Linked DNA regions of Homo sapiens: region 2 is linked to region 1. A link means that fine-mapping ties the variant in region 1 to the expression of a gene that starts in the linked region. Tissue or cell type: lung. Region 1 holds a variant in brackets; the other region holds the start of a gene. All regions are shown on one strand. Distances are from middle to middle.

Evidence for each region. PIP is the estimated chance that this variant, and not a neighbour inherited with it, causes the effect. A credible set is the group of variants that fine-mapping cannot tell apart.
Region 2: it holds the start of PRELID2, and the variant in region 1 is the best candidate, but not a certain one, in a credible set for the expression of PRELID2 in lung (TOPMed, PIP 0.67).

What each region holds. Positions count from the first base shown.
Region 1 is chr5:145,722,487-145,728,705 of GRCh38, reverse strand. It overlaps a transcript of PRELID2 not described here. Among named protein-coding and RNA genes, the nearest start is that of PRELID2, 110 kb to the left of the region's middle. The variant A/G (reference allele first, on the strand shown) is at 3,775.
Region 2 is chr5:145,832,775-145,838,338 of GRCh38, reverse strand. PRELID2 (PRELI domain containing 2) reads left to right here and starts at 2,997. Exons shown (of 7, transcript NM_205846.3): 1 at 2,997-3,162. The coding sequence starts at 3,088. RefSeq lists a silencer at 2,686-2,805.

The sequences.
Region 1 (6,219 bases):
TGGACTTGCTGAAGTGAAATCAGTGGTCATCAACTATAACCACAAATTCATTGAAAATATTGGTTATGTTCGTTATGGAGTCTATAATGTTACAGTGGTCATTGTTTTGCTAAATGTGTTAATTGCCATGATCAACAATTCATTCCAGGAAATTGAGGATGATGCTGATGTGGAGTAGAAATTTGCAAGGACCAAACTCTGGTTTTCCTGCTTTGGGAGGGGAGAACACTTCCTGTTCCCTTCAATCTGGTTCCAGATCCGGGGTCCCTGTTTTGTCTCTTGCTGAAGCTTGAAGTGTGGATTTCTGAGCTCTACCCAGGGCCATAAAAAAGGTTTCCAGGAAGATGTAGAGATAAGTAAGTAGAGATAGAGATAAATAGAGATAGATAGACAGGGACTTGCAGGAACTCACAGGAACTAACAGGTATCATAGGGACAGACAGGGACAGGCAGGGATAGATGAAGACTAACAATATAAGGTCAGTGCCCTAAAGAGATACTGATCAGTGCCCTAAAGATGTACAAAAGCAAAGACTAGCAATATACGGTCAGTGCTCTAGAGAGGTACTGGTCAGTGCCCTAAAGAGGTACAAACGTAGAGACTAGCAAAGACTAGCAGAGATTTGCAGGGACAGACAGGAATATTCTGAATTATGGAAATTAGCTATGGCTCAAAGTCCAGTCAAAATCTGAGAGGGAAAGTATAAAATGAACAGAGGGGAGGGAGGTAAGGATAAAAATGCTCTTTCTTTTCTCTCCAGTGGGACCTTTTGGATTCACAGTTGTGCTAGCAATAGGAAATGTTACTCTTGATATAAATACACACTTTATTACATGCCCTGAATGTTGCTTGTTTACCTGCCTTGATTCAACCTTTGATAAAAATCAAACTGTCTTGATAATTAAAGCCAGGGAAGGAGTTTGGATCCCTGTGTCTCTAAATAGACCATGGGAGACATCACCATCTATTTGTATTGTAACTGAGATCCTTAAAAACTCTTATCCCGTTCCAAAAGATTTACAGTTGAAGGCCATTGGAGGCTCTACATTTGTGGATTTTGTTCTGGTGGTTGTGTGCTTGTGCTGTCTCCTTTTAGTTTACAGATGCAGAAGCCACCTCTGAAGAGGAAGCTGCCTCTGAAGAGAAAGCCGTCATCAAGAACAAGCAATGATAGCTGTGGTGGTTTTATGAAAAAGAAAAGGGGGGCATGTTGAGAGGAAAGCTGAGTATTGGGAGAAGCTGAGGCAGGGCTTGCATGTCTGACATAATGTAAAAGAGTCTTGAAACATGTCCAGGGTCCAGGGTCTAAAACCCCTCATGGCCTTTGGAACACCAAGCTCTGTGCTAAAGGGTGGAAGGCTACCCTGACGCACCATAATCTAAGCCCAGGGCATAAAACCCCTCGTGGGTTGGATAGAATCCAGGGCTCAGGGCATGAACCCCCTCATGGCTTTGGAGTGTGTCTAGACTTGCTGGCTCCTTGCTTCTAGCCCTCCCAGTCTCCTAGATTGATTGTGTCTTGGAATTGGCCATATAAATGCTAAACCATCACAACTGTAAATCAGGTGCTTAACGCAGTGCTCCCTTTCAACCCCACATTCTCACCACCTGTTTCTTTGTTTGATCACCAATAAATAGTCTGGGCTTCCAGAACTCTGGGCCTTCACAGCCTCCATACTCACGTTGGCCCCCTGGACCCACTTTATCTCTCAAACTGTCTTTTCTCATTCCTTTGACTCCACTGGACTTCATCACCCCAATGACCTGGTGTTGGGTCTGATCACGCTACCACAATGAAATGTTATAATTTACTTCCAGACAGAAGCTTCAAGAGCTAGTGTACAATTTGTGTGGGCAGAGCAAGCTCCCACAGTTTGAGTGAAAGTTCAAAGTGTGAAAAGTTAATAGACATGCTACAGAAGGTTGAGGTGGAAAGCTGTCAGTGTGAAAAGCTACAGCTGGTGTCAGAACTGGGCTGAGGGAACTGATGCAAGGCAATTTATATTTAACCTACATAATTGTATATCCATCATACTTTGCCTATCCATTCTCCCAGAGATAGGCACCTTGGTGGACTCCAACTTCCTGATCCTGGTCCTAAAAATAGTGCCAGTGAACATACTTGTACATATTCGCCTATCTGTCTACATATCTATCCATCCATCTGTTAATCATCTACTTATCCATCTATTCATCCATCTCCAGGAATTAAATTGCTAATAGGCATTGACCAAGACAGACTTAATGTTCTTCTCAGCTTGACTAAAATTTAGACTGATTTCTCCCTGACTATAGATCCCTGACCTCCTTTTGCTTAGAGTATTTACTTGAGAAAATATGCAATTGTAAATTCTTTCTTTCCCTTTTCTTTCTCTTTCTCTCTTTCTCTCTCTCTCTCTTTCTTTTTCTTTCTTTCTTTCTGTCTCTTTCTCTCTTTCCCCCTCCGTCCCTCCCTCCCTCCCTCCCTCCTTCCTTCCTTCCTTCCTTTCTTCTCTCTTTCGCTCTTTCTTTCTCTTTTGCTCTTTCTTTCTTTTCTGAGATAGTGTCTTGCTCTGTCAGCCAGGCTAGAGTGCAGTGGCAGGATCAGGGTTCACTGCAACCTCCATCTCGTGGGCTCAAGCAATCCTCCCACCTCAGCCTCTGGAGTAGCTGAGACTACTCTGGCTATTAAAAAAAATTTTTTTTGTAGACACAGGGTCTCACTATGTTGCCCTAGCTGGTCTCAAACTCCTGGGCTCAAGTGATCTACCTGCCTTGGCCTACCAAAGTGCTGGAATTACAGGCATAAGCTACTGCACCCACGTGTAAATTCTTTCTGTTTAAATTCTTAATTCTAATTATCAAGTTTTTCCCTATAGAATATGTAAATCTTCTACAACCCAGAAAAGTCTTGCTCAAGGATCTTGGAGTCAGCCTGTTGAGATATAATCATTGAAGGCAATAGAACCACATTTCTCAGTCTCTATGGGAGGGTAGAAGCCTACTCTTGAAAAGCCTACCCTTGGAAAGTGACAATTAGCAAACACAGATGACCTAATCACATTGGCCACCCTCCCTACACTGATGTCCTTTAGTACTCTCTAGTAGTTTTCTATTAGCTCCTCCCAGCGTTTAAGAATCTTACTGCCTTTTGTTTCAGTGGAGTTGAATTCAGCCTCTCTGTGCTATTGCAATAGTATTGAATAAGGTCTTTCTTGTCATTTTAAATATATCCAGTGACTTTTTTATTTTTTAACAGCAGACATATATTTAAGTTAATGAAGTAGTGCTCATTTGTTATCTGGAATGGCTATACTGGTTTCTATTCCATGTATACCTGTTAGCAATGCTTAAAGGTTTACATCCCTACATTTCTACCAACTCCAAGAATTATTCAGACTTCTAATGTTTGTGAGTTAGAGGTGAAGTGCTGTCTCATTGTTTTTTAAATGTGAATTTATCAAATTAACGATGATTCTGAGCACCTTATTATGTTTGATAACTTTTGGGGTTTCCTCCTCTGTAAATTGCTTTTGTCTTTTATTCTACTGGGATTGCTCTTTTCTTGTTGCTTTGAATTCCTTTCACATACAGTCAATAACTTATGAATTTTAGACATTTCAAGTACTTTACTTTGTTCATATTATTGTCAAACAGAGATCCACATTTAAAAAGTATTTGTTGGCTGGGAGTGGTGGTTCATACCTCTAATCCCAGCACGTTGGGAGGCTGATGTGGGAGGATCATTTTGGTCCAGGAGTATGAGACCAGCCTAAGTAACATAGTGAGACCTC[A/G]TTTCTACAAAAATTTAAAAAATTAGCTAGGCTTAGTGGTGTGCATCTGTGGTCTCAGCTACTCTGGAGGCTGAGGTGGGAGGATTGCTTGAGCCTGGAGGTCAAGGCTATGGTGTACCATGATCATGCCACTTCACTCCAGCCTGAGTGACAAAACAAGACCCTGTTACATATATATATAATATATAATATTTTATATTATATATATTATATATGTAATATGTATACACATACATTCATTTTTTATACTTTTAAAGAACTGTTTGCAAGTAAGTTACAGGCATTATATATATATATATATATATATATATATATATATATATATATATATTTATTTACTTCTTGTTATTTCAGTGTTTTCCCTAAAAACATCAACGAGGAATAACAAAAGTATAAGTATGGAATCAGGATGTTTAACATTGATTCAGTATTATTATCTAATCCATTATCTATGTTCAACTTTTGCCAATCACCTTAATATTGGTATTATAGATTGATATTTCTCCCTTCAATTCAGGATTCTGCTTAAGCCTCTTTTGTTTCCTTTCATTATCTCAGACCCTCAGGATTCTTTATTTTTCATGTCTTTAACGTTTTATTTTGTAGATGGCTTCTAAGTTTAGGTTTGTCTGATTTTTTTATGATCATAATTTTTTGGCAGAAATATAAAGATAATATTGTGGTCTCAGAACATCATATCAAGGGGACCATGATACCAATTTATACCGTTACTGAAGCTGTTAACCTAGGTCACTTGGTTAAGGCGAGTCTGCCGATAACCATTTTTCCCTTTGTAATTAACTACTTTTACATAGACATGTTTGAAATATATGTATATTTGCATGTTGCATTTGTCACTTATCAATATATGCTGAACTTATTTCATATTAGCTCATAGAGCTATCCTTTATTCTTTATTACAAATGCATAGCATTCCATTGTGTGTATGCATCAGAATTTACTTGATCAATCTTTTATATATAGATATTTAGGTCACTTCCAATATTTTGCATTTATAAATAAGGCTGCTATGAATAACCTAATGCAAATGTCTTTTCTTATTGTTGGAGATATATATTCAGGGTAAGTTTCTAGATTTGAGATTGCTGAGTTGTAAGAAAAATGCACATACAATTTGTTAGAGATTGCCAAATTCCCCCAACGTAAGAGTTGTGTCATTTACATTCCCACCAGCAATGAATGAGAGTGCCTCACAAGCCTTGCCAACAGAATGTGTTGCCAAGCTTTTAAACTTTTTGCCAATGTGATAGAAGAGAAATGGTATCTCAGTGTCATTTTATTTGCATTTCTTTTATTATGAGTAAAATTAAAATAGTTTCATATGATTAAGGACTATTGTATGCCTTTTTAATGAATTTTTGGCTTGTGCCTTTAACTCATTGTTTTATTAAGGCTTTAGTTATTTCCCCCTTTTAAGTTGTTAAATATATTAAAGATAATAGCTTTTTATCTGTGATACGTTTTGCAAACGTTCCAAAATGGTCTCAATAATCCCATCTCCATGTAATTACTCCTTTGTACAGACCTCTCTACATTGAATAGTCCTGGTCTGTGCACCCAATAGGATATTTGGTACAAGTCTTGCACGTTTCTGTAGTGTTTTTGTATAAAATAAAACTGTGGCTACAGAATCATGGTGTGTTTGTGTGCTTACTTTATATTCATGAATTTCTTATATTTATGATACATTGCATTCCTGGAATAAACTCTGCTTGGTCATTATGTATTATTTTCACAGTATGGTGATGAATTCTATTTGCTTGTAAATATTTACTATTTTTGCATTAGTATTTATAAGCTATATTGGTCTGTAATTTTATTTAAATTTTTGACAATCAAATTTAGGTATCAATATTATACTTGCTTCATACAATGATTTTTGACAATTTTCCTTCATGTTTTATGTTTTGAAACAATTTTTGTAACATCGGGTCTCTCTGGTTATTGATAGTTTGGTCAAATTTCCTTGTGAAAACTTCTGCTCCTGGTACCTTTTTGGGGGGTATAGCCTTGATACAATGTTTTTTCTATAAAAGTTGGTTTAAGTTTTCTAAACTCTACTTTAGTCAATGTTGGTAAACTGTATTTTTTAAAATAAATTATTAATTTGGGGCCGGGTGTGGTGGCTCACACCTGTAATCCCAGCACTTTGGGAGGCCGAGGTGGGCGGATCAGCTTAGAACAGGAGATCAAGATCAGCTTGGCCAACATGGTGAAACCCCGTCTCTAACAAAAATACAAAAATTAGCTGGGCATTGTAGTGCTGTGCCTGTAGTCCCAGCTACTCAGGAGGCTGAGGCAGGAGAATCGCTTGAACCCAGGAGGTGGAGGCTGCAGTGAGCCAAGATTGTGCCACTGCATTCCAGCCTGGGTGACACAGAGTGAGACTCTGTCTCAAAAAAAAATTATTAATTTGATACTGGT
Region 2 (5,564 bases), 110 kb before region 1:
GGGAGAAACTGATGGTCAGAGTGGATTGAGGATACAGGGCCCAGGACCTACGCTAGCAGGGGGTTTGTATGTCACATCTGGTCTCCAGCTACTCTGGTAAAAGAGGCAGATACAAAATACCATAAACTCTGCAGGTAATTGATCTCTCCTTTGTGGACCTGTGTAGTCTCCCTGGAAGACTGCTTTTTGTTTTCCTGTAAGGAGGGATTGGTGATATAGTGGAGTGGCTTTTAAACATGCATCCAACACATGTAAGAGCATTTGCATCTCATTCTCCTCTCCACTCCTCCCTCTGTATTTCAAGGAAATGCTGCTTACAGGCTTAGTAAGGTGGGGATTAAGAATTAATTATTGGATTTAGCAATTTGGTCATTGGTGACCTTGACAACAGTCGTTTCGGTGAAGTGGTGGGGGCAAATACTGATTGGAATGGGCTCAAGAGATTACAGGCAGCTCTTTTGAGGAGCATCAGTGGACCAGAGACTCGGAATACAGCTGGAGGAAGATAGGGGGTTAAGAGTTGTTTTTTTTGTATTGTTTCTGTTTTTGTTTTTAGATGGAAGAAATTACAGTGTACTTGTTGTGCTGGCTGGAATGGCCCAGTAGAGACAAAAGCTGATGATACAGAAAGGAAGGGGGATATTGCTAGAGAGATGGCCTTGAACAAGAAAGAGGACAGGAACTTTTAGTGATGTACTAGAGCTGGCCATTCAACACAGCTATTATTAAAGTATATAAATTTACAATCACATATAAAAATTAATAAATATTTATTTATTTGAGATGGGTCTCACTCTGTGGCCCAGGCTGGAGTGCATGGCACGATCATAGTTCACTACAGCCTTGAACTTCCGGATTTAATAGAGCCTCTGGCCTTAGCCTCTCAAGTAGCTAGGACTACAGGTGTGCACTGCCACACCTGGCTAATTTTTTATTTTATTTTTTGTAGAGATGGGGTTTCACTATGTTGCCTACACTGGCCTCAAACTCTTGGCCTCAAGTGATCCTTCTGCCTTGGCCTCCCAAAGTGCTGAGGTTACAGGCATGAACCATAGGAGCCTGGCCAAAGAGTAATAAACATTGAAAACTCATCCCTTCCTGCTACATTTTCCATTATTTATGTTTTTGGTTCTTTATGGCTGTCGTATGTGGGTGGTGGAAATACTATGTGATGGTGTGCTTCTGTGCTTCCCTCCCCAACTCCCACTCCTCACTCAACTCCATGTTGCTAAATCCCCAACTTGTGTTTAGTGACATCGAGTTGGCATCTTTAAACATGGTAGGAGTATTTACACCACAGGAATCAGCAACCTTTGGAAATCAGGGCCTTGCTTGATTTATACTTTAAAGGACAGCTATTTGTTAAACATTTTTCAGTTCACCTCAGGATTCAGTGGACAAATGGAGACACTGGTGCTAAAACAAAGTGCTGACAGTTCACCCACAGGAACAAGAGTGAAGGCAAGGCATTTGGTCTGGTGGGTAGAGAGGTGGCAGAGCGATGTGACCTATTGACTAAGTGAAAATGGAAGTAAGGTAATGACTGGAGTATAAGGCTGGGAACAAAGGTGTCAGAGGTGTGGAGGAATGCGGGAGAGTAAGTGGATTAGAGAAATTCAGTACTCTCTTTTTTTTTTTTTTTTGAGATGGAGTCTTGCTCTTGTCGCCTAGGCTGGAGTGCAATGGGCGAGCTCTGCTCACTGCAACCTCCGTCTCCCGGGTTCAAGCGATTCTCCTGCCTCAGCCTCCGGAGTAGCTGGGACTACAGGCGCCCGCCATCACGCCTGGCTAATTTTTGTATTTTTAGTAGGGACAGGGTTTCACCATGTTGGCCAGGCTGGTCTGGAACTCCGGACCTCAGGCGATCCGCCCACCTTGGCCTCCCAAAGTGCTGGGATTACAGGCGTGAGTCACCGCACCCAGCCAGAAATACAGTACTTTCATAGTGTATTTGTCTGGCACCATTAAAAGGCGCCATAGGGTTAGTGGTTATGAACTTAAAAGATGCACAGTGGGTGTGTATTTTCCTTCAGCCCCTTCTGGTGGCTTGGGTAGAGACAGTCAGAGGAGACCTAGATTTACACAAGGCTAGGGTTTTGCCAGACCAGTGTGACTGCGTATGGCAGGGGCGAGCGAGATGGCAAAATCGTAAAAGTCATCACCTCAGAGACCCTCCATAATCACCCTCACTAAAATCATGTCCGCGCCCGTGTCACTTTAACCGATTATTGTTTTTATTTTCCCAGCTTGTTGATTGGGTGTGAAATCAGCCGGCTCATCAGCAGAGCTGGTGTTTCCTCCCTGCGGAATCCGCAGTGCCCACTACAGCGCTGGGGCATAGGAGGCCTCAGAACCGTGCTGAATACACGGATTAACGTGCTGGTTCTCCTAACATCTGTTGGTTGCAGTAAATAATAATACTCGCAACTCTTTTGTATCCTCTAGTTCCTTGCTCCGTGGTGTTTAACCTTAGCGAGCAAAGGAACTTACCTGCAGGTTTTGGTGCACTAAAACGCGGTTCTTATTCCCGAGGCAATCTTTACCTTACACGAGGCCCAAACCCAAGCCTCAGAGGCAGCTGCCTGGTGGCATGAGTAATGCTGGCCTTTGTCACACCAGGCCTTCCTTATTAATACTTTTTTCCCGTGCTGCCAACCACGGCTTATTCTGTGACTCCAGGCGGTGATACCATAAACGCATAAGCCCAAGGTCCAGGTTTCCTGGGGCGGGGCGTGATGGCTCCCAGGCAGAGAAGCTTTTCTCGGCAGGCGCGGCCGCGGGAGGGCACCAGGGCCGCTCTGGCGCCGCCAGCGTGGAGACCGCGGGGCCCCGGGTGCTCTGGGAGCGCTCCAGCGCCTCCCGCGCTCTGTAACCCCAGGCCCCGGACTCTGGCAGTAGGGGCGTGGGCGTGGCCGACTGCGCGTTTCTCCGAGTGGCCAATAAAGTTTCGAAAGTTTGAAAAGCGGAGGAAAAAGGCCACGCCCATGTGGCTGTCCGAGTGTGGGCGCCTCCGGGCCTCTGCGGAGCCCTGGGCAGCTCTGAGCTCGCGGAGGCGTGGCCGGTGCGCGGGGCCCGCGGCGCGCGGGGATGGGGGTCTCGGTGGATGTGCACCAGGTGTACAAGTACCCCTTCGAGCAGGTGGTCGCCAGCTTTCTCCGAAAGGTACCGCCCCGCTTCCACCTTCCGTATCCCGCGCTGCCTCCGCTGCTTGCCCCTCTCTCCTCTCCTTCATCCACGCGGAAGCTGGCACCGCCAGTGTCTCTTTCCAGCTGCGGGCTTTGCTTCAGGGATGTGTGGGTCGAGAGGGATTTCCTCGAAGACTCCCTTTACAGGGAGCGGGAAAAGGGGCCGTGCTTGGCATCACGTTCACACCTGCCCCAGCTGAAAGAAGAGGCTTTCCTTTTAGGAAGAGCCTCCGGGAATCCCAGCTCGTGAGCTCCGTGGAGTTGCAGATGACCGACGTGTGGAGCTTTCCGGTTCATCACTGACCCCTTAAAAGCGAGGGGAGGCCATTGGGCAGTCATCCTGGTTTACTCAGCATGATGGTTCTGCTGCCCCATCCGCTGCTCCTTATTAAACAGCTGTGGGACATCGTGCAGGTTGCTTACTCTCTTTGTGCCTTAGTTTGCTAATCTGTAAAATGGGGAAAATAATAGTACCGACTCATAGAGTTGTTGTGAGGATCCAAATGAGGTAACTTGTGTAAAGTGCTTAGCACAGTTGTGACCTAAATGAAGAAACTGAGGCAAAATCAATATAAAAAGAGAGTTCATTCGAGCCAAGTTTGAGGGCTGCATCCTGGGAGTGAAGGTGCCCTGAGTATACATTCTGATGAGCAGAAGTCGAAAGTGGGTTTTTAAAGGAGAATAAGAAGCACTTCCTAAGTTGTTTACCAAGAATTTATATTAAAATAACATAAACTATTGATTGTCTGTACATTGTTCTTTGTATCACAAATTCCAGGAACTTGAAGATAATGGGTAAGGCAGCTGGTCAGGAACAAAATGCCTTTAACCAGTTGCTCCCAGGAATGGGTTGGGTGAGGAGGGGACCACTAAAGTCCTATACTCTTGTCTCTCTGGGCTTGATTGATTTTGCATATTTCACTGTAACTCACACAATCTGCTCTGAGCTATTTTTCTTTTTCTCACTGCTACTGATGTTTAGTTAGGGCTCTAAAATGTTATTGTTGTTTGTATTACTACAACCGATTTCAATACAGATAATGAACTCTTCCTCAATACTGAGGAGCCCTGAATCCCAAAGACTGTTTCTAGGATTGTGGGTCCTGATAATAGGAAAATGGGAAATGTCTTTGAAAAATCGAAAGCGCCCAGGCCTGGGAGGCAGGACTCCTGGACTCTGATCTGGTTCTATGCGTGGTTAGTTCTCTGGGTGACCTTGGCTGAGGGTCTTTTCTCTAGGCCTTAGTTTCCACATCTATAAGATGAAGGGGTTGTACCAGATGATCTTTGAAGGTCCCCTTCGGTTTTCATAAGCAAAATTTGCAACAGTTGCAATTTGCCTTGGTTAGCAGCCACGGGACATTGAACTCCATATGCAACCCGGAAGCCAAACTAAGGGAGATGCTGGGAAGATGAAGGTCATTTGTTAAACGATAAGGTGTAGCCTCCGTTAGAGGAGGTGACACGGTGGCCCTGGTCACAGAGGAGTGAGGAGGACACTGGTTAACACTTTGTTGCTATAGGGGGCCTCTTTAGAAGGAATGTCAGCTTGCTGATATGTTCGTTGATTTTCAGTATCTAGACTAGTGCCTAGCACCTACTAGGTATTTAATAAAAACCTGAGCAATGAATAAATGAATGAAAGAATGATTTACAGACCTGTTGTAGACTTTGCCTTAGGCCAGGCTTCTGGGCCCAAAAAGTAACAGCCAACACCCAATTTTTTTGTTAGAACTGGCACTTTGGAGTCTGGGTACCCTTAAGCCACTGCTCCTTTGTAAAGTCTTTTTGGATTGTCATCATCAAGAGTCAGTTGATCTCCACCTTCTCAGAACTCACAGGGCACTCTGTCTAGGCGTTGCTGACCGTCTGCAGTGTCAGATGGTGACTTCTGTATGTGTTGTGTTTCCCGTTAGACTCTAAGGTTTTTAAAGGTGAGACTCACTCCTGCAGAAGCACATAACACAATGCCAAACTCTTATTTACGGAGGTCCTGGCGCATTGTCAGCTTTTGGTAAATGCTTTTCTTTTGTTGAATACTTATCTTCTGTGTGCCAAGCTTTGTGTTAAGTGCTAGAAAAATGTGGGAGGTCACCGCAGACCCTGTTCTCATGGAACTGATGGTGTGTAGTGGGGAGATTAACATAAATAAATGATGCGCAAATGAACACAAAATTCAAATTGATGATGTGTACTTATGAAAGGAAAATACATGGTGCTTGAATATAGCAGGGAGGCCTGCTGAAGTCAGAGAGGGTGATCTTTAGGAAAGGCTTTCCTGAAGAAGTGGCACTGGTGAAATGATGGCTGAAGCATGAATAGAAGTTTCCTAGGAAGGCTGGGTGTGTGGTGTGTGGTGTGGTGTGTGTGGTGTGGTGT